2 separate regions of the Homo sapiens genome follow, and region 1 is linked to region 2. The links come from fine-mapping of genetic effects on gene expression. Tissue or cell type: whole blood. Region 2 holds a variant in brackets; the other region holds the start of a gene. All regions are shown on one strand. Distances are from middle to middle. Region 1 holds the start of PIK3R6 (phosphoinositide-3-kinase regulatory subunit 6). Region 2 has its middle 14 kb from the start of MFSD6L.

Evidence for each region. PIP is the estimated chance that this variant, and not a neighbour inherited with it, causes the effect.
Region 1: it holds the start of PIK3R6, and the variant in region 2 is fine-mapped to the expression of PIK3R6 in whole blood (TOPMed, PIP 0.97).

The regions. Positions count from the first base shown.
Region 1 is chr17:8,863,370-8,873,537 of GRCh38, forward strand. PIK3R6 (phosphoinositide-3-kinase regulatory subunit 6) reads right to left here and starts at 4,305. Exons shown (of 20, transcript NM_001010855.4): 1 at 4,160-4,305. LOC107985071 (a long non-coding RNA gene) reads left to right here and starts at 4,405. Exons shown (of 2, transcript XR_001752787.2): 1 at 4,405-4,636; 2 at 5,163-5,664. RefSeq lists enhancers at 1,531-1,600, 1,651-1,790, 1,901-2,250, 4,074-4,253, 4,284-4,433.
Region 2 is chr17:8,779,933-8,790,100 of GRCh38, forward strand. No RefSeq gene overlaps it. Among named protein-coding and RNA genes, the nearest start is that of MFSD6L, 14 kb to the right of the region's middle. The variant T/C (reference allele first, on the strand shown) is at 5,929.

The DNA.
Region 1 (10,168 bases), 83 kb after region 2:
TTGAAATATTTACTCTCTTAGTAATTGTGAAATATACAATACACCATTATTAACTATAGTCACCCTAATGTGCAATGAATCTCAGAAACCGTATTCCTCCCATCTAATGAAAACTTCATACCCTTTGACCAGCATCTCCCTATTTCCCCCAACCCCCAAGTGTGTGTGTGTGTGTTTTTTTTTGAGACAGAGTTTCGCTCTGTCACCTAGGCTGGAGTGCAGTGGTGCGATCTCGGCTCACTGTAACCTCCACCTCCCAGGTTCAAGCGACTCTCCTGCCTCAGCCTCCCGAGTAGCTGGGACTACAGGTGCACACCACCACGCCCAGCTAATTTTGTGTATTTTAGTAGAGATGGGGTTTCACCATGTTGGCCAGAATAGCCTCGATCTCCTGACCTCGTGATCCACCCGCCTCGGCCTCCCAAAGTGCTGGGGATTACAGGCGTGAGCCACCGCGCCCGGCCAGTTTCCAAAAGGATGATGAGAGAGATCTCCTGAGGAGGTGCCATTTGAGTGGGAACCTAAAAAAGGCCCGACAGCAAGCCATGCGGTATCTGCAGGAAGAACGCTCTAAGCAAAGAGAATAGCCAAGTCCTGAGTTGCAAGGGTGCCCAGTGTTTTTAAGGGACAGCGTTTGGGGTGCAATGAGTGGGGGACACTAGGAAGATGTTGGGAGACAATTCTCCATAGGTTTCTGTTTGTGCATGCCTGGTGAGCATTCTTCTGCACCATCTTTTCAAATACGTTTGTATAGCAAACAGCCTTGGAAGATACTGTCCATTCTAGGACAGAAGACTAATTTGCTGTCAATATAATAGAGATAATGTCTCCTTTCAGGGTAAAAGTTGGGCAGGTTTGTTTGCAGCTCGTCATGAAAATTTGGGGTTTCCTAGGCTCAGGGTTCCTGGGCTATGATGCAACAGAGTCCATTTGGATTGGGCTCCTTGCGGCGCCCCTAGGACTTAGGGGAAAGGGGGACCTATAATCACAATGTTCATGCTCCTAGTTGTGCTGTGAGTAATAGAGTTCTTTGTCTCTGACTCTGGAGTCTCATGTCTTCTGCTGGTGACCATGAAGCTGTGGTGGGCTAACTTGTTAGTTCTAAGTTAACTTATAACTAACAGATCCTTCTAACTTATAACCCAGGTCCTTCACAGCTCTTTTTTTTTTTTTTTTTTTTTTTTTTTTAGACAGAGTCTCACTCTGTCGCCAGACTGGAGTGCAGTGGCGCAATCTCGTCTCACTGCAACCTCTGCCTACTGGGTTCAGGTGATTCTCCAGCCTCAGCCTCCCGAGTACCTGGGACCACAGGCGCCCGCCACCACGCCCAGCTAATTTGTTGTATTTTTAGTAGAGACGGGGTTTCACCGTGTTGGCCAGGATGGTCTCGATCTCTTGACCTCGTGATCCACCCACCTCGGCCTCCCAAAGTGCTGGGATTACAGGCGTGAGCCACCGCACCCAGCCCCTTCACAGTTCCTGGCAGAGGGATGAGATCAGAGACAAAGAATGAAGGGATGAATGAATTGGGATTCAGAGAGCATTCTTCCTTAAACACAGAACATCAGCACTGAACAAGTCGCAGGCCAGGTGCACACACACAGCTCATCACTCCCTTGGGGTACAACAAGCCCAAGGACTGACCACAGAACCATAGAAGCCTTCTATGGACACGGCAAAAAGAAGCAAATGGGGACCACCTGTTCACAGCTGCTGCTCCCTGTTGTTGGTGTGAGATAAAGTGGGGGTGACCTCCTGGATAGAGGAGAAGACTGAAGTAAGAGGGCTTGGAGGAAGATCTGAGGAAGCCTGGCTCAGGTTCAGAGTTTCTGAACCTGAAGATTCTGAACATGAAGATTCCAGATCTGACTGTCCCTTGTGCCCCCATCCCCCCAGCTCACCATTGCTGGCTTCTCGGACAAGCTGTTCAGACAGAAGAACCCACCACCTAGGCCTCCCTATACCTGCAGGAATAAAGCCTGGGCAGAAAAGATGTGGAGCTTCCAGGCCTCCCTATACCACAGCTGCAGGAATAAAGCCCTGGCAGAAAAGACGGGGAGCTTCCCAGGGCCACACTCTGTCTGCCTCCTGTCCTCCAGCCACTCCTGTGGCACAGAGAGAGGGGACCTGCAGAGCCTGGGTCACCTGCCTCTGTTGCCTCCCCTCTTCTCCCACCAGAGCTGCCTCGTGCCCTCAGGGTTTCAGGGGCAGCTCAGGCTTGCCAGACGTCATAGCTGTGTTTTTTTTTTTTTTGGATCGGAGCGTGTGGTGAGTGAGCTGGCAGTGAGGGACTAAGGGAGTGAGAGGACAGAGCTCTGGGTCCTGAGGGGGCCCCCTCAACCTTTAGCCCTTGCCCCCATGAGGTCTACTTCTCAGATTCCCAAGGAGCCGGGAGGTGAGGGTCCTGCTGCCCTGGCTGGCCCCCGTGGACAAGGACAGGCCTGTTTCCTCAGCTGTGTCTGCTTCTGGCTGGAAGGAAACACCTGGATATGAAAGAGCCAGTGGGGTGGGGGTGGGGGAGCATTGTTCCCAGGGGCAGGGAAGCTTGGTGGGATCTGAATTCAGGTGGGGCCTGAATGCAGCAGGGACCAGATGGCGATGACTGCAGCTTGGCATCTGCAGCCACCGTGTCAGCCGAGGCGCTTTCGTGGAGACAGTGTAGGGCCTGCAGCAGGTTCTAGTGTGAGGCAGCGGGGCATGGTGGCCAGGCAGGTGGCATTCCAATCCTGTTAATAGGGCAACTTGGGCTGCTTGCTTAAAACCTCCGTGCCTCAGTTTCCCTATCTTAAAGGGGACCTGACAACAACACCTACCTCATAGGCTTGTCATGAGACTAAATGAGATGATATTTGAAAACCACATAGAGCTAAATAAATAAATGGACCGGGCCAGGCGCTGTGGCTCATGCCTGTAATCCCAGCACTATGGGAGGCCGAGGTGGGTGGATCACGAGGTCAGGAGATCAAGACCATCCTGGCTAACACGGTGAAAACACAAAAAATTACTACTAAAAATACAAAAAATTAGCCAGGCGTGGTGGTGTGTGCCTGTAGTCCCAGCTACTTGGGAGGCTGAGGCAGGAGAATCGCTTGAACCCAGGAGACGGAGGTTGCAGTGAGCCGAGATCGCACCACTACACTCCAGCCTGCGCAAAAGCGTGAGACTGTCTCAACAACAACAAAAAAGGACCGGCCTGCGAGTGCTCCACACACCCCCTCTAGCTGTGCTCCCCCCAACACCTGACTTTCCCACTTGCTTTCCTGCCTCTGGGGGTTTGCACACTTTGCTCCCCATTGCTGAGGTGCCTCTTGCCTCCTCTTTGCACACCAGGTCCTCCCTTGAGCCTCAGCCAGGCACCACCTTCCACGGGACCCTCCCTGAGCCCGCACCCTGCAGTCTCTTTCATCCTGCACACACCACACACCTCCTGGCTCGCTGAGGACCCTGAAGGTTCTGAGTTGGTCACTCGCAGCTGTGTTCAGACCCTCTTTGCAAGCAGTCAGCCCTTCAAGGACAGAGACCAGGCCTCGGTCAGACTCTGGCACACATAGAAGATACTGGATTTGTGTATAGGAAGAGAATCAGCCAGACCAGCATGACTTTCACCAAATTCCCCAGGAAAGTGATGGGCAGATGATGTCCCAGAAAGGGCACAGACTGGGACCCAGATGTTTCACACTGAGTCCTGCTCCTTGCTAACCCACTCTGCAATCTTTGGCAAGTTGCTTCATCTCCCTAAGCCTCAGTCTTCTGTTCTATAAAATGGCACTAAAACACTTATCCAGTCAACCTCTAAATGCTGGTGAGAATCAAATGGGAAAATGGGTGTACTCTGCAGCACCGGGCATCAATCATTAGTCCTATTATTAACAGCATGTACAGGATTCCAGAAGAAAGGAGAGTCCTTCTCACAGGGTCCCGTGTCTTTTCATCTTGTGAAAATGGGCTGAAACAATCTTAACTTGGCAGAATTACCCTGCAGTGTCTGAGGTCACCCTTCTCAGAAAGACGGCCCTGGCAGCCCTGAGCCTGGATAAATAAGAGCCAGGGGTGTTTCAGCCCCCCCAGGGGCTCCCCTTCCAGGTCCCTCCGTTCCACCCCTCTATCTGTTCTGCTCAGATCTGCCTGCCTGGCGATCTCCATCCAAGCCAGCACTTACCTTGGTTCGGTGGCAGCTTCTGGGCTCCCCAAGTCCTTCAGCCAACTCCCCACGGTCCTGAGCGAGGTCCCCAGTCCCAGAGAAGCAGATGTCTTGGGGGAGCCTCCACGGGTGTCTGTGGTCTTGACTGTGCTCTTCAGATCTGCAAAGAAAAGCTCGATGTCTCACAGCTCTGTCCCCTCCTCTTCCTTCCCCTTCCTTGTGGCCCTCGAAGCTCCTCCCAGAATGCATTTTGCTGTGAGGATCCTTTCTAAAGAAGCATGACCCACGGTCACTGGAGGTCCTTTATTCTGATCGAATGTGACCAATTTTATGGGGCAGGAGGGGGACACCTCCCAAGAGACTCCCTCTGGTGTTGACGGGGGAGGGACTGATGCAGGGAGCCCTGACCTCTCTCTCAAGCTCCAGACTCACCAACCATCCCCCACCCCTGGACATGGCCAGCCAGATGTCCCTCAAGCACCTCCATCTCAACAGGTACAAACCGAGCTCATCATTTCTCCCTCTAAGCCCACTTCTCTGTTTCCTGCCTCAGAATCAGCAACCTCGGTATCATCCTAACGCCTCCCTCTTCCTCGCCTGTTACATCTAAACTGCACCAAGCCCTGTCAATAGGTCATGGATCCTCCACTTTCTTCCATCCCTATGGCTGTCACTGTTTCACCTGACTACCATGGTCTTTCTCCTGAAACACTACAATAGCCTGAGGTCCTTCACCCCACAGCCAAAGGTCTCTTTCTAAGAGTGAAACACAAATCTATTCATGTTACACTCCTGCTACAACCTTCAATGGCTCCTTATTACTTTAAAGAGAATGGCCAAACTCCTCAGTGTGACTTGCCAGACCCTTCTTGATCTGGTCCCTCCCTAAACTCCAACCTCATGCTTTATCCCCTCACTCCAGCCCCTCCCAGAAGTACTGCAGTCTCTTAACTATCCAGGCTGTGGGAATCACTTCCCAACCCTTCTCCTGGCTCATCCCTTGTCATTCATTATTTATCAGAGAAGAACAAAAAAACAAGCCTAAGAGGCAGGAGGAAAGTGGAGTGCCAGGGATGCTGGCAGAAGACAGAATGCCAAGGAGGAGACAATGGTCAACGACGCCAATGATTGTGGAGAGGACACAGGTGAAGAGAATGAAGAAGCATCTGCTGTCCTTGGCAATTAGGAGAGAGCAGTGCTGGGCAGGAACAGTAGACCTGCTGGGGGAAGTTGATCAACCGCATGGTGACACATTTGCTACTTTGTCATTTTCTTTTTTTCACATTTTGAAGTCAAACACTATTTGGGAGAGTCTCTGACACATTTCTAGAGCTTTGAAAAACTCACAGATTCTATGCTGTCATCCCGTTGGGCCTAATGGGTAAATGGCTCTAGAGAGTGACAGATTGCTGACAGCAGGGTTTGAGTGCTGGATCCAGCTATGCCTGAAATTCTGGGGCTGAATCTACTCTTGGACTGTTCATTGTACATGATCCAATAAATTCCATTCTTTTTTGGATTAAGCCTGTTGGAGTTTGTCACTTGGCTCAACTCAGAGAGCTTTGGGGCTGTGAAGTCACTGATCCTTTCCCGTAGGGGCTTGACTAGGTTCTATGCTGACCTTTCATTTTGCAGAGGAAGCTATTTGGAAAAAAAGTCCAGAAATGTAAATCATTTACTCTATTGCTGTGCCTTCCTCCCATAACTGCTTCTTTTCTGTCCCCTTCATGTGACTGAAGTCACATTCTATCTTGCATCTTTGTATTAGCGTTCTCAGCTCACATGTCTGCCTTGTTCCTCCCTCAATGAGTCCTGAAAGAGCAGGGGCTAGAGTGTTGTTCATTATTCCGTCCATCACAGGGTGAAAGAGTGTTAAGAGAATGCTTGGCTTATTTATGAAGCAAATGGGTGACTGAACGAAGGAAACGAATACGCCCAGGACAGAATAAAGGACCAAGAACTCAGCCCCTGCAGGTTCCAGACTCAGCAGCAGCTGGGCAGTGTGGCCACCCTGGGCAGCGCCTCTCCTTATCAGCCTTGGCTTAACTGAATCGGAAATCACAAGCCGAGGTCACTTCTTGTGGGTGCACTGCTCTCTTTATCATCAGCTGCCATTTCTGCAACTGCATTTGCTGTGGTACCCATAGAGGGGGCAGCTTGGTGACCATAGAGAGCCCCAGAGCTGTCCCTTGCAAAGAGGAGCTAGGGTGCTTTCATTTTTGAGTGCACACGGCTGACCGCCAGCCAGGAACAAAGGACAGTGGGAGGAGGAGGTGACAATAGGAAGGACCAAGTTCCCCCACGGACCCCAGTGCACCGTCCCTACCATCACCAAGGCAAGGCAGCACTACCCCTTTTGCCAATCCCAGCCATGTCTTTCCTCTCCAGACCATGTTCTTAGGATTTGTTTAATCTGGGTTTTCCAGGCTGTGCTCTTACCAGGTTTCTCATCTGCACCAGTCTCCAAAGAGCAGCCCCCTCTTTCCCTGCCAAAAGGCAAATGATCCGTCAGCATCAGAACTGTAAAAATTAAGGTTCCCTGCTTTCACTGTACTAGTTCCCAGATGACCTGGTCAGCTAATGGAGGCAAAGACCCCCCAGAATGATCAATGCCCAAGATACAGAAGCAGAAGGCCCACCATCTATTGTCACTCCCCTTCCTCCTCCTCCTTCTGCCACCCTCCTCTGCCAAGTGAGGGTCCCCACTCCTGGTGACCCTTCTGGGCATAGCTGCAATGGCCTCTCTTCAGGTTCTCCTATCTCAGCCAGGGTGTTTGGAAGTCTGTTTACATAACTCGCCTTGGGGTTACAAAGTTACTTACCTTCTCTACAGATGAACCACTGTTTCCAATCCATCCTCATCCATTTTCTAATCCATTACAAAGCCACTGAGAGCTTTAAACAAAAATTAAATCTTCTTGCAACTGTGGACAGAGCCACGGGTGAGGAGGGCCAGGTACCAGCATTGCGGAGGTCTGCAGGACCACAGTATTGGAGTCAGGCAAGAATTACATGCTTAGGAAAAGAGGTCCCCAGGGTCGCTTGTGTCCTCACCTGCAGTGCCACCCACCGTGGGAGCTGCTCTGGGATTATTCAGCATCGAAGGCGGCAGAATTTGTCATTTCAGTTTTCTAAGGAATCCACTTACATAAAATACTAATAAGCAAAGTCAATTTTACTAAAGATTATGTAGGAGGATGAAGGGAGTGTACATCACACGTCTCTTGGCAAACTATTCAAAAATCCTCTGTGGATAGTTCTGAGGATCCCGACGTCCCTCCTCCATGCCATGCCATTGGAGCGGGCAGCCTGGAATGGGGTGGGCTTTTGTGCTTTTTCCTGTCTCTCTTCTCCCCATGTGACCCTGACTCATTAGCGTCGGTTCCTCCCTCCTAGATTTTTTTCACAGACATATCCAAATTGTCTTCGAAGCCCATTCAGAGCACTGTAATTCCATTCTAATTCTCAACTCCCCACTTTTCTACCCCAAATTCATGACTGCCACCCACACAGATAGCTCTCTGGTTGGCAGGACCCATTTTTAGAAAACCGTGAGAGGTAATAAACCAGAAAAGAGCTGTTAGGAAAACACATTTTGATTCGTTTAAACAATCACCTCGTGAGTCAGCTACAGTTACACAGATAGGTTAAGTTTAAACGCTCTCATCCCTGGTGGAGGTGAGACTCGACACACTGCCTCGGCACAGGCAGTACCCAACTGCGGGGCACCTTTGCCTCTGGTGCAGTCCCTCCAGCTCTTGCCCACGGCCCAGAGGCAGGCAGGACAGCGTCATGCTCTAAGCCACTGGTTCGCTAAGGGTAGTCCCTGGACTGGCAGCATCAGCATTGCCCTGGAAATCCGTTATCAACTAGTACTGTCTGCTGTGGCTGTGGAAAGGGAGGAACAGTGCACACCTCGGGAATTTTCCATCCTTTACTTCCAGCAGCGTTATTTGGCAGAGTGCATGCAGAATCAGGACTAATTGGGGTGATAGAAGAAGCGGATTTATGCTTCATATCCAACCAGTCACCTTCTCAGCTATTTTTCTTATTTTTGGTGGTGGTGGGGAAGTTTTTATTTTAAATGCCATCAATGTTCTTTTTTTGTTAAGCTGTAATGTTTAAAAAACTAGTCAAGTAGGCCAGGCACGATGGCTCATGCCTGTAATCCCAGCACTCTGGGAGGCCGAGGCAGGTGGATCACCTGAGGTCAGGAGTTCGAGACCAGCCTGGCCAATGTGGTGAAACCTCGTCTCTACTAAAAATACAAAAATTAGCCTGGCATGGTGGCCGGTGCCTGTAATCCCACCTACTTGGGAGGCTGAGGCAGGAGAATCACTCAAACCTGGGAGGCAGAGGTTGCAGTGAGCCAAGATTGTGCCATTGCACTCCAGCCTGGGTGACACAGCAAGACTTCGTCACAAACAAACAACAACAAGAAGAACAAAAACTACTTAGGTAATCCATAAATATATTTCCATTATAAAAACACTCAAGCATTGTAGGACCCTAAGAGGAAAAAAGGAGGGTCTCTCTCCTCCCCCTCCTCAATTTCTTTACCCTCCCACCCAGTGATAACCATGGTAAATAGCTTAGGGTAGTTTATACATGTGAGCACCATACAAATCGCTCTTTAACTTGCTTTGTTTACTTGAAGATCACGATATATTGGTACATAAGGATCAACCACATTCTTTTCTTACATTTAAATGTACATGTTTGTTTGGACTAGTTACACATTTACAGGGTTCGAAATGGGAAGGACACAGAGAAGATCAGTCACTCCCTCTTCCGAAAGCTGCCCTTCAGGTGAAGAAAACCTTGTGACCTCCTCCTTCTCTTTTGCGGGTGCAACTGTCCCCTCTCCCAAACTCCTTGGTACTGGCAGCTCTGTGATGAGGTGAGAGGGCAGACACTTTGGGGTTGCTGTGGAGGGCGGGGCCTGGTCTCTTCTCATTTCCCCTGTTCTCATGGCTGCCTTGAGAGGGAGACCAAGTGGACCCCTGCTTCCTCTCCCTCTGCCCCTAATACCGCAGGTTCCTCCTTGGACAGGCTTTTGCTGGTGGAGCTGAGCTGGGGAGGTGTTAGGAGTCTCTTCATCTGCATGATATGCATATCACCCTCTCCATTTTCTTTTTCCAAATGAACTCACACCAGGAAGTGGAACAAATCAAGATGGCTGGGGTCAACCAGGAAATCAGTGAGAAAACGCAAAGACCCCAACTTGCATTATTTATGCAAATTGCCTGCCCTCCAAACATGTGCAGGACCACACACCCACTCATGTGCACACGCACACACACACACACACACACACACGCACGCATGCACACACTGAGCTACACCCCCAAAAGTAAGCCAGGCTACCTGGCTGGGCCCTCATCCTGGCACGTGCCTCTCACTCTGTGTGACCCTGTGCAGGCCTCTCCCAGTCTCTGGGCCTCAGTTTCCTCCTCTGTAACCTGAGGGGCTGCAGATTGGGTTTGCAAAGCCCTCCTCAGCTTTCTCAGCCCCAAAACGATTCTGTTCTGGCCTCAGAGACTTTCGGCTACAGTTTTGCTCAGAGAAGGCCTCTGGTCCCTGGTTGCAAGGGCCCCTTCCTTGGGTGTGTGGGGGTGGGGGCCGCTCTGCTCCCTCCCTCCTCTTCCCCAGAGGTCTCGGGGGACCCCCTTCAGTCTGCTCTGGAGCCAGGAGCGACATTCACCATTCACCGAGGGCTTCCTTCCTGACTGCCCTCCCCTTAGCAGTGGTCCGCGCAGACCAGCCTGGAGTCCCGCCAACCCAGTCTGGCCCCAGCTTCCTCTCCTCCTCTATGCCCCCTCCAACTTTTCCACCCCTGCCACTCCCACCATTCCTGAGGGTGTGTGAACACAGCTTCTATTTTGAAGCTATCAGAGCGTCTCCAGCGTTCCATTAGAAACGAAGCCATTCTTCTCAGACATCTGTGTGATCCTTTTCATGGCCTCAGCTTACCCACCACCCACACGAGAGGTTCCAGAGAGCAGCAGAGATTAGTGGTTAAGCGCA
Region 2 (10,168 bases):
TTAATCCGAGCACTTTGGGAGGCTGAGGCAGGAGGATTGCTTGATGCCAGGAATTTCTACAAAAATTAAACAATAAAAACATTAGCTGGTCATGGTGGCACCTATAGTTCCAGCTACTTGGAAGACTCGGGTGGGAGGATCACTTGAGCTTGGGAGTTCAAGACGCCATGAGCTATGATCATGTCATTGCACTCCTGCCTAGGCAACAGAGTGAGACCCTGTCTCTAAAAATCAAATACACAAACAAACAGACAAAGACTTTAGACAGATTCTTTTTAAGGTTGAGAACACAAAAATGGTTACTCTACCACTACTATTCAACATGGCATTGGAATTCCTTGCTAACACACCAAGACCATGAAAACCACCACCACTGCCACCACCAATAACAACAAGAGGGTCAAGTGCTAGCAGGGTAAAGGCAAAATTGATTATTTGCAGATGAAATGTTTATTTACATAGTAAGCACAACAGAATTAAGAGATAGAGAGTCAGAACTAAAAACAGAGTTCAGCAAGATGGCTGGAGATGATGCCCAGCATACAGAAACTGATAGGGTTTGTTTGCACTGTCAATGACCAATTAGAAAATATAAAAATATACAAAATGATCTTTTACAATAGCATAAAAAACTGTCAAGTACTTACGACCTTATATAATGAAACTACATAAGATCTTTGTGGAGCAAAATTTAAAACTATTAAAGGACATAAAGAAGTTTTGAGGCCGGGCGCAGTGGCTCACGCCTGTAATCCCAGCACTTTGGGAGGCCAAGGCGGGTGGATCACAAGGTCAGGAGATTGAGACCATCCTGACTAACATGGTGAAACCCCATCTCTACTACAAATACAAAAAATTAGCCGGGCGTGGTGGCAGGTGCCTGTAGTCCCAGCTACTCTAGAGGCTGAGGCAGGAGAATGGCTTGAACCCGGGAGGTGGAGCTTGCAGTGAGCCAAGATGGCGCCACTGCACTCCAGCCTGGGTGACAGAGCGAGACTCCGTCTCAAAAAAGAAAATAATAATAATAATAATAATAATAAATAGAAATACATACTATATTCATAGATAAATGGCTTAACAATGTAAGGATGCCAAATCCCTCCAAATTAATGTACGAATTCAATGCAGTTCCAATAAAATTTCCAGAATTTTTTTGGGGGAAAGTGAAACACTTACTGTAAAATTTATAAGGGAGAATAAAGCCTAAAAAAGAAGAGTAAAGAGGAAAGACTCACCTTACCAAATATTGAGACATTACAAAGCCAAGTGCTAACTGTGATATTAGTGTGATATTAGTGCAGGGACAAATAGATTAATAAAACTAGAGAACTCAAAAGCAGACTTAAGTATAAAGATGTAGTGCCAGAAATCATAGAGGAAGAGTGGATTATTTAGTCTATAGCATTTTGAAAACTGGCTAAGTGGAGAAATATAAAGGTGGGTCCCTATCTTAAGTCTATTCAAAAGAAATTCCAAATGAATTAAAGACCTAAAATGAGAGTTTAAAATTAAAAGCTAATATGGAAAATGTAGTATCTTTTTAACTTGGAAGTGGGGGGGGTAGCAAGAGAGATTCTTATTTTATTTTATTTTTCTCCCTAGAATCCTTGTAGCAAGAGAGATTCTTAAGATCCTCAAGATAAATTGTAATGGGAAAATAAAAAACTTTGATTACATCAAAATAAGATTTTCTGTTCAAAAAAATATACCAAAGTTAACAAATGAGTGACAGACTGGGCAAAGATATTTCCGAAATGAAAATCAGCAAAGGATTAATATCTAGATTATACAACACACTTCTGCAAAACCACATGAAAAAAGACAAGAAACAGAACAAAAACTGGGCAAAGGATATTGTGGAAATATGAGTTTTAAGCTTCAAACACTTTGATTTGACTTTGGTTAAAATTGAGTTGGAACCAAAGGTCACGATCACAACTAGAAAACCCTCAGAGGTTAACACTTTTGAAAATGCAGAACTTTTAGTTTGTGGTCTGGCATGTTAAGAAACTTGGAAGTAACCACTCTGTCCTAACAAGTAAAAAGCTGAAAAAACTGGAAAATCAACAACTCTTCTTAGATCTGTGAGACAAGTGATGTCACAGGATAAACCAGTGCTCCCAAGATTGGAGAGACAGAGAGGTGAATACAGAGAATCAAAACATACGGAAGCAGAAACTCACAAGTAGAAACCGGCATTGTACTTGATGAGTTGCTGGAGGCTCGGCATGGACAAGTCTGAGAGATAAATATTCCAGGGGTACCCAGGCATAAGGGGGTCCCTACACTCTGGTGAATTTTACCTCCTGGAGCTCTACCAGGTTCTCACAGTGAATAATTTGAGAAAATTTCCCTCATGCTTCCATCCTGGGGATGGGAAAAGAAGCTATTTGGAAATACCAATGCATTCCATTCTTTTCAACAAAGCCTTCCTCTAGGAGAAACTATTTAACCAGTCTAACCTGCTGGGTTTTTATCAGAGCGTAATTAACTTAGGGGAAGGAAAATATCCAATTCCAACCAGCTGTAGCTTCCACATGGAGGAAGGGAAATACTCAACTCTAATTTCCTCCAACCTTCCATGTGGGAGAAGGAAAACCCTAATTCCAGTTCACTCTAACCATCCTAGTTTACCTAAGGGGAGAGGGGAGCAACTGAGAAGCACGTCTGAAGTTCACAGTCTAGGGGCATAGGCTTACTAAAAGACTGAGGCCTACTCATAGGACTATAGAATGCTCTTCTTCCCCCACACCTTACCACCACATTACTAAAGGCTTATGAACAGAAGTTTCTTTTACCCAGTACATTATGTCTGGGGAAAACAAATTACAGGGCATACTAAAAGGCAAAAACAAAATATAGAGACAGAGAAAGCATCAGAATCTGACTCATGTGACAGGGATGTTGGAATTATCAGATCAGGAATTTAACCCAAATATAATTAATATGCTAAGCGTTCTAATGGATAAAGCAGATAACATGCAAGAACAGATGGGCAATTTAAACAAAGAGATAGAAATTCTAAGACAGAACCAAAAACATACACTAGGGATCAAAAACACTGTAATAGAAATAAAGACCACCCAGATAGGCTCATTAGTATACTGGACACAGCTGAGGAAAGAAACGCTGAGCTTGAGGATATCTCAAAAGAAACTTCCAAAACTGAAAAGCAAAGTGCAAGGCCGGGTGCGGTGGCTCACGCCTGTAGTCCCAGCACTTTGGGAGGCTGAGGTGGGTGGATCACGAGGTCAGGAGTTCCAGACCAGCCTGGCCAAGATGGTGAAACCCTGTCTCTACTAAAAATACAAAAATTAGCTGGGCGTGCTGGCAGGTGCCTGTAATCACAGCTACTTGGGAGGCTTGAGGCAGGAGAATCATTTGAACCCGGGCAGCAGAGGTTGCAGTGAGCCAAGATTGCACCACTGCACTCCAGCCTGGGTGAAAGAGCGAGACCGCATCTCAAAAAAAAAAAAAAAAAAAAAAAGCAAAGTGCAAAGAGACTAAAAAAGAAAAACCAAACAGAGCATCCTAGGACTGTGGGATAGCTACAAAAGCTATTCATATAAATACATGTAATGAGAATACAGGAGAAGAAAAAAAGAAAAGAACAGAGGAAACATTTGAAACCTTTTAAAGGCTGAATGATATTCCTTTGTATGTATATACCACACTTTTTATCCATTCATCTGTTGATAGGCACTTGGGTTACTTCCACATTTTGGCTACTGTGAATAATCCTGCTATGAACATGCATGTACAAATATCTCTTCAAGACCTTGCCTTCCATTCTTTTGGGTATATATTCAGGAATGGGAATGCTAGATCATATGGTAATTCTATTTTTAATTTTTTTTAGCAAGAACCCTACAGTTTTCTATAGTGGTTGCACTATTTTACTTTCCCATCAACAGTTCATAGTGTTCTAATTTCTCCATCCTTGTCAACACTTATTATTATTATTATTATTTTTTGAGACACAGTTTCATTCCGTCACCCAGGCTGGAGTGCAGTGGTCCAATCTCTGCTCACTGCAAACTCTGCCTCCTAGGTTCAAGTGATTCTGCTGCCTCAGCCTCCTGAGTAGCTGGGATTACAGGTGTGTGCCACCAGGCCCAGCTAATTTTTGTATTATTAGTAAAGACTGGGTTTCACCATGTTGGCCAGGTGAACTCCTGACCTCAAGGGATCAGCCCAACTTGGCCTCCCAAAGTGCTGGGATTACAAGCCAGCCACAGTGCCTGGCCTGTTTTTTTTTTGTTGTTGTTGTTCGTTTTTTGTTTGTTTTTCATAGCAGCCATCCTAATGAGTGTGAGAGATGGTATCTCATTGTGGTTTTGGTTTGCATGTCCCTAATGATTAGTGATGTTGGGCATCTTTTCATGAGCTTGCTGGTCTTTTGTATATTTTCTTTAGAGAAATGTCTATTTAAGTACTTTGCCCATTTAAAAATCAGGTTGTTTGTTTTTTTGTTGTTGAGTTTTAAGAGTTCTTCATATATTCTGCATATTAACACCTTATCAGATGTATGATTTGCTAATATTTTCTCCCATTCCATAGGTTGCCTCTTCACTTCTGTTGATTTTGTCCTTTGATGCTAGACCTTTGTCATCCACATCTTTGTCATCCACATCTGAACCCCATCTCTCGTTTCCATTGGTGGTAGTCGTGGTGGTGGTGGGCCTCAGTATGACTGCAGTAATGGTACCTGGTGCGTCTTCTTTCCAAGACTGCCCTTACTTAGTTTCTTTTGTTTGCAATGAGACAAAGATTTCTGAGCACCAAATGACAAAGAAGAGTTAAGTTTTTAAAAGCAATTGTTTTCTTCTTGAAATGTTTCTTTAGTTCCTGTTCAAGACAATGCTAAGCAAAATTCAGATATCACCACACAACCTCTGGTCTTCTGTGGAAGGCAAGACTTCTTCAAATATCCAAACACCTTGAGCCCCTGAGTTGGTCTGACTCGCTAGTCCCAGGGACAGACACAGTGAGGTTTATTTGCTGCTGACAGCCAAGCTCCAAGGCAAGATGGGACAGCTATTGTCATGGGGGGAGACATTCAGATCCCTCTTATGACTTGCCATAAAAATGATGGGCCTCTGGTGGGATCCATTCCCAACTCTCTTACCTCATTTCAGGTAGGTTCAGTGGTGACATCCAATCATAGCTCTCTTACCTAACTCACCTCTCCAAGGGCAAGCTTCTCACTATTCTCTAATCAAAATTTAGAAAACCTGCCAGTACAACCTTGGAGAAGAGGGGCTTTAGCCAAAAGCAGGTGCTATATTCTCTCCTTCCTGGAAGTGTCATCTCTTTTCTGGGCTAAGAGCACACAGATTTTGATGTAATTTGCCAAGAACAATAGGAAGAAGCACTGTTTCTGGATGCCACATGCTTCCTGAAAGAGGAAAATTGTAACATGTTGATATGATAGTGGAGGGTCTTGGAATTTTCTTGGAATCTTCTCATCTCTTCCATGGTGACAGAGATCCAGTGAGTGCCTGGTGAGATAGGACTTATTTGTAAATCCTTGTGAGCCTCTCTCTGCAGGCACTGGAATATACACTGATGAGATTTGGGCAGCCAGGCTTGGAAGGGGATGGGGCTGAGGAGCAGGAGGTGAGGGTCTGTGAAATTGGTTTTATTATTGTGACTCTGACCTCAGGTGGTCCCTCGGCAGCCCTAGGAAACTCAAAAAGTACATGCAGCTATTTATCCTGTTTCTTCACATTTACACTGATCAAGACAAAAGTAGCATCAGGGTCGTCCATATCCTCAGGAAAGGCTGCCAGAGGCTGTCTGGGCTGGCCAGGCTGATCTGCCAATTCCACTGGAAGCCTTTGCAGCTGCTCCCTTTTCCCAGACCCTGGCCTCGCCTCCTGTCTCTCACAAAGCCAGCTCAGCAGCAGCACCTGATCCTCGGGGTTT[T/C]CTGTAATTCCAAGCTCCAAGAACTAAAGGGCCTTCAGGTTGCCGGCCTCATCCTGAGCTGCAGCTTTGGGAAGGGAATAGGGACCAGGTTTGCCCAATGAAGAGGGACGCTAGTTTTCCCTTGTGTTTGGCGCTCCCTGGTGGAGAGCTTCGGAACCCCTGGTCGAATCCTCTCCCTTCCTGTCCCGGTTTGCTTTCAGAAGTCCTCTTCAGTCCCCGCTTACAGCCATTCCACCCCCGTGTGGAGGCAGAAAATAGCTTTCCAGTCCCAAGAGCGTGGCCTGCCCCTTGCAAAGGGCAGAGGGGATGCAAGTGTCCAAAACTGCAGCCTATGGGGGTCGACATGAACAAAGCTAAAGGGAACGTTGAGTGCCAATAGGAAGGTGCCCCGCCCTGAAGGTGCCTACCCAGACCTCTGCCTTCCGCAGTAGCCCCCCATGCTGCAGGCCTCGACCAGACACCAAGTTCCAGTCACCACAGATTGCCCCCTCTGGCTCATCCCACCACTCCCTAGACCCTGGCTTTGAGGGCAGATCGATTGGCCTATAGGGCTGGTGTCTTGGCTCAATGTGGTCCTTCTGCACACAGACCAGGAACTTTCTGCCAGGTTCTGGGGAAGGAGATGAACCTTCATTCCAGGCCCCAGCATCTCTCGGGTTCCAGAATGCTATGCTATTCTGCAGGGTGAGAAGGGCTGGTGTGCCCTTGGCCCAAAGGAGGGAATCACGTCAAGGCCGAGAGGCACAAACTTAGAAGGTCACAGAGACCAAGGCCCTCATTTTTCAGACATGGGAGCTGAGACCCAGTGGGGTAAGTGACTTGCCCAGGGGTCATATTTTAAGTTTTACTTCTGTAGCAGATGACAACTGTCTTAGTCCGTTTTCTGTTGCTTATAATGGAATACCTGAAACTGGGTAATTTAGAAAGAAAAGGAATTTAGTTCTTAAAGTTACGGAGGCTGAGAAGTCCAAGGTGAAGGGGCCACATCTGGTGAGGGCCTTCAGGCTGAGGACTCTCTGCAGAGTCCCGAAGTGTTGCAGGGCCTCACGTGGCGAGGGGGCTAGGCATGCTAGCTCAGGTCTCTCTCTTTATAAAGCCACCTGCCCCACTCCTATAATAACCCATTAATTCATTAACCCATTCACTTATCCATGATGGCAGCATCCTCATGAACCATTCACCTCTTAAAGGTCCCACCTCTCAATACTGTCACATAGAGGATTAAATTTCAACATGAGTTTTGGAGGGGACAAATATTCAAACCACAGCAACACCTCACCAGTCACGTTTCTGTCGTGCACCGCAGGCTCCCAGGATTGGAAAGAACTTCAGTCCAGTGGAGCCTCATGTCTCCAAGCCATTTCACAGCCAGGCTAGCAAAAAGATAAAGGTTTCATGAACATGGCTGTGGAAAGCCAGTGGATGCTGAGCATGCCTTCTGCTTTGCTCCACATCACAAACATCACCAAGTGGCAGGGCTTCTGGTCTCAGTGACAGTCAGCAATTGTAGAAGGAAGCTAGCAGATGAGGAGTTTTTGCTGTATTGTCTATAATTCTTTTTTTTTTTCTTTGAGAAGGAGTCTCGCTCTGTCGCCCAGGCTGCCAGGCTGGAGTGCAGTGGCGCGATCTCAGCTCACTGCAAGCTCCGCCTCCCGGGTTCACGCCATTCTCCTGCCTCAGCCTCCTGAGTAGCTGGGACTACAGGCACCCGCCACCACGCCTGGTTAATTGTGTGTGTGTGTGTGTGTGTGTGTATTTTTAGTAGAGACAGGGTTTCACTGTGTTAGCCAGGATGCTCTCCATCTCCTGACCTCATGATCCGCCGGCCTTGGCCTCCCAAAGTGCTGGGATTGCAGGCGTGAGCCACCGCACCCGGCCTGTATTGTCTATAATTCTTATGATCTGAGCTTTGGTTTCAGGTTTTGGATGGATGGCTTCATGGGCTCCCGGGCTCTGCCATTTCTGCAGAATTTCCTCCTCATCACATGGGTTCAAAATTACAAAATCATCCACGATCCTTGATACTCCTTCTTCGTTGATCCCCGCGGCCCCATTATCCAATAAACAACCAAGGGCTGTCTTGTTGATTCCACTTTTGAAATTCCAATACACATACTATGTTGTCATTTGATTCTCATACCTTTTGGGATGCAGCCTCTTCTTGCCTGGAATGTTGTGGTGGTCTGTCCAAAACAAATGTCTCAGCACCCATAATCTCCACCAACTCAGACTCATTGTTCACTTCGCAACAGGCAAGAGTTAAAAGCTTTCAGTCCTCTCCATTGGCTAGTCAAATCTTCTCTTCTAGAGGCCCCATAGTCTTCAGAGGAACAACCGTGGATTTCTAGCAGCCAGATATGGGTTCAAACCATGGCTCTACCATCTAATAGTCGCAACCATGGGCAACTAAGTCAGTTGACCTTTCTGAGCCTTGGTTTCCCCTACTGTAAATTGAGATTAGTATGAGGATTATGAGTATTGCTGTGTGCAGGTGTGAGGCATAAAGAGCAGAAGCAAATTTCAACCAGTGTGAGTTCTGTTTCCCTTAGATTGAGGCTTAGGAAGTTCACAATCTGTTCCAACACTTCTTTCCAACTTTATTTTCCATGAATCTCCTGTGAAATCTACACGCGTATCTGGTGTGTTATCTCTATTGTGCCCCTATCCCTGATCATTGCTCCCCTGCTAGGAAGAGCCTCTTCACTTGCCTGAGTTGGTTGAATGTAGCAGTTGGGAGGACGGACTCTGTGGTCAGATAGATCTAGTTTCGAATTTTAACCTTTCTGAACCTTAGTCAAGTCACCTGTACAATGAGGCCATACTAATATCTTATTTCATAAATTTGATGGTCTGACTTAATGAGATAAGCTTTGTCCACCTCTTATTAGCCCGACGCACAAGATTCCTGCTAGTCTGGGTGTGGGAGCCCAGATTTGTCCCTGGCATCAACTCTATTGGGTTGAAAAGATCATCCAGAAAACTACAAATGGCATTTTTCAAAGGGTCTTCTAGGGAACACTAGTTCTGAAAGATCGTGATTAGTGTTACATGCGAAGAAGGCTGTGACACCACATAAGGGGAATTATAGGTCAAAGAGAGAGAAACAAGTTTGTTGACTGCAGGCTTTTGAGAGTCTTTAATTGCTAACAGGTATTGCAAGTTTCTAAAAGGTGACAATAATTAACATCATTTTCCAAAGTTGTTTGACCACAGACAGAATCCTTATGTAATGCTCTCCCCAACCCTCCACACCACTAGGATTGCATGTTCTGCAAAACTCAGTTGGGAAATAGTGGTCTAAGTAAACCTGAGCATGATGGTTAATGGCTCATTCAATATTTACATTCCTCTTAGCTGGAACCAAGACATGTCAGAGGGTCAAACTCAATATCTTTAACAGCTACAAGATCAGGAGCTGAGAATTGTATTTACTTTTGATTCTGTAAAGCTTAACTGACCTACTGGTAAAGTAGGTAATAGAGTGAAAGTCACAGCTTGAAGTCTAAGACTTTACGACCCAGTCCTTCCTCCATACGCCGGCTTATTTCATAAACTCCATGAGGGTCTTTTCAGAAGGTCCCTGCGCTCAGCTGTCCTGTCTGCCCAGAGAGAAATGCTCACTATTTAAACTTCTCACTTGACATTTACGTTGTCCTGTCCCATTCTGTTTGTGGACATGGTTTTGTGGTTCGGCCTTTCCTTCTAAATTGTCAGTATTGTTCCCAGGCAGGCTTTGTCATAGAAACAAAGTGCAGTTCAAGGTTTCACATCTGCACAAATAGGCAGGGTGGGTAGCATCGGCCTCATATCCAAGGGAGAGAGTCCGTTGAGTGTTACTCCGATCGGACGGGGGGGGTAGTTCACATGTGCATCCCCAAACAATGATTGCGGCCCTGTGAACAAAATGTGCAGAATGGCATAAAGCCATTGGGAGGTGACATTAATTACCCCGGGAAGATGTGGGAGGCATCTGGTGACGTTATGCAGGAGGGAGTGGTAGACGCGTTCCTAAAGACTCACCCAGCACCCTGAAGGATCACAGCCTTGCTCAGTACATACTTATGAAGGAAGGGTGACCTGAAGAACGCTTGAGCCCAGGGCCTTCACTCTGAACTTACTTCCCTCTATCACAGCCTCTGACTCTGCAACACCTCACCCCAGGGTGCCGCCAGCATAAAGACAGAAGCCTGCAGGGCTCAACAAGGAGAAGGGGCAAAGTGAAGAGAATTCGGGAAGCTCG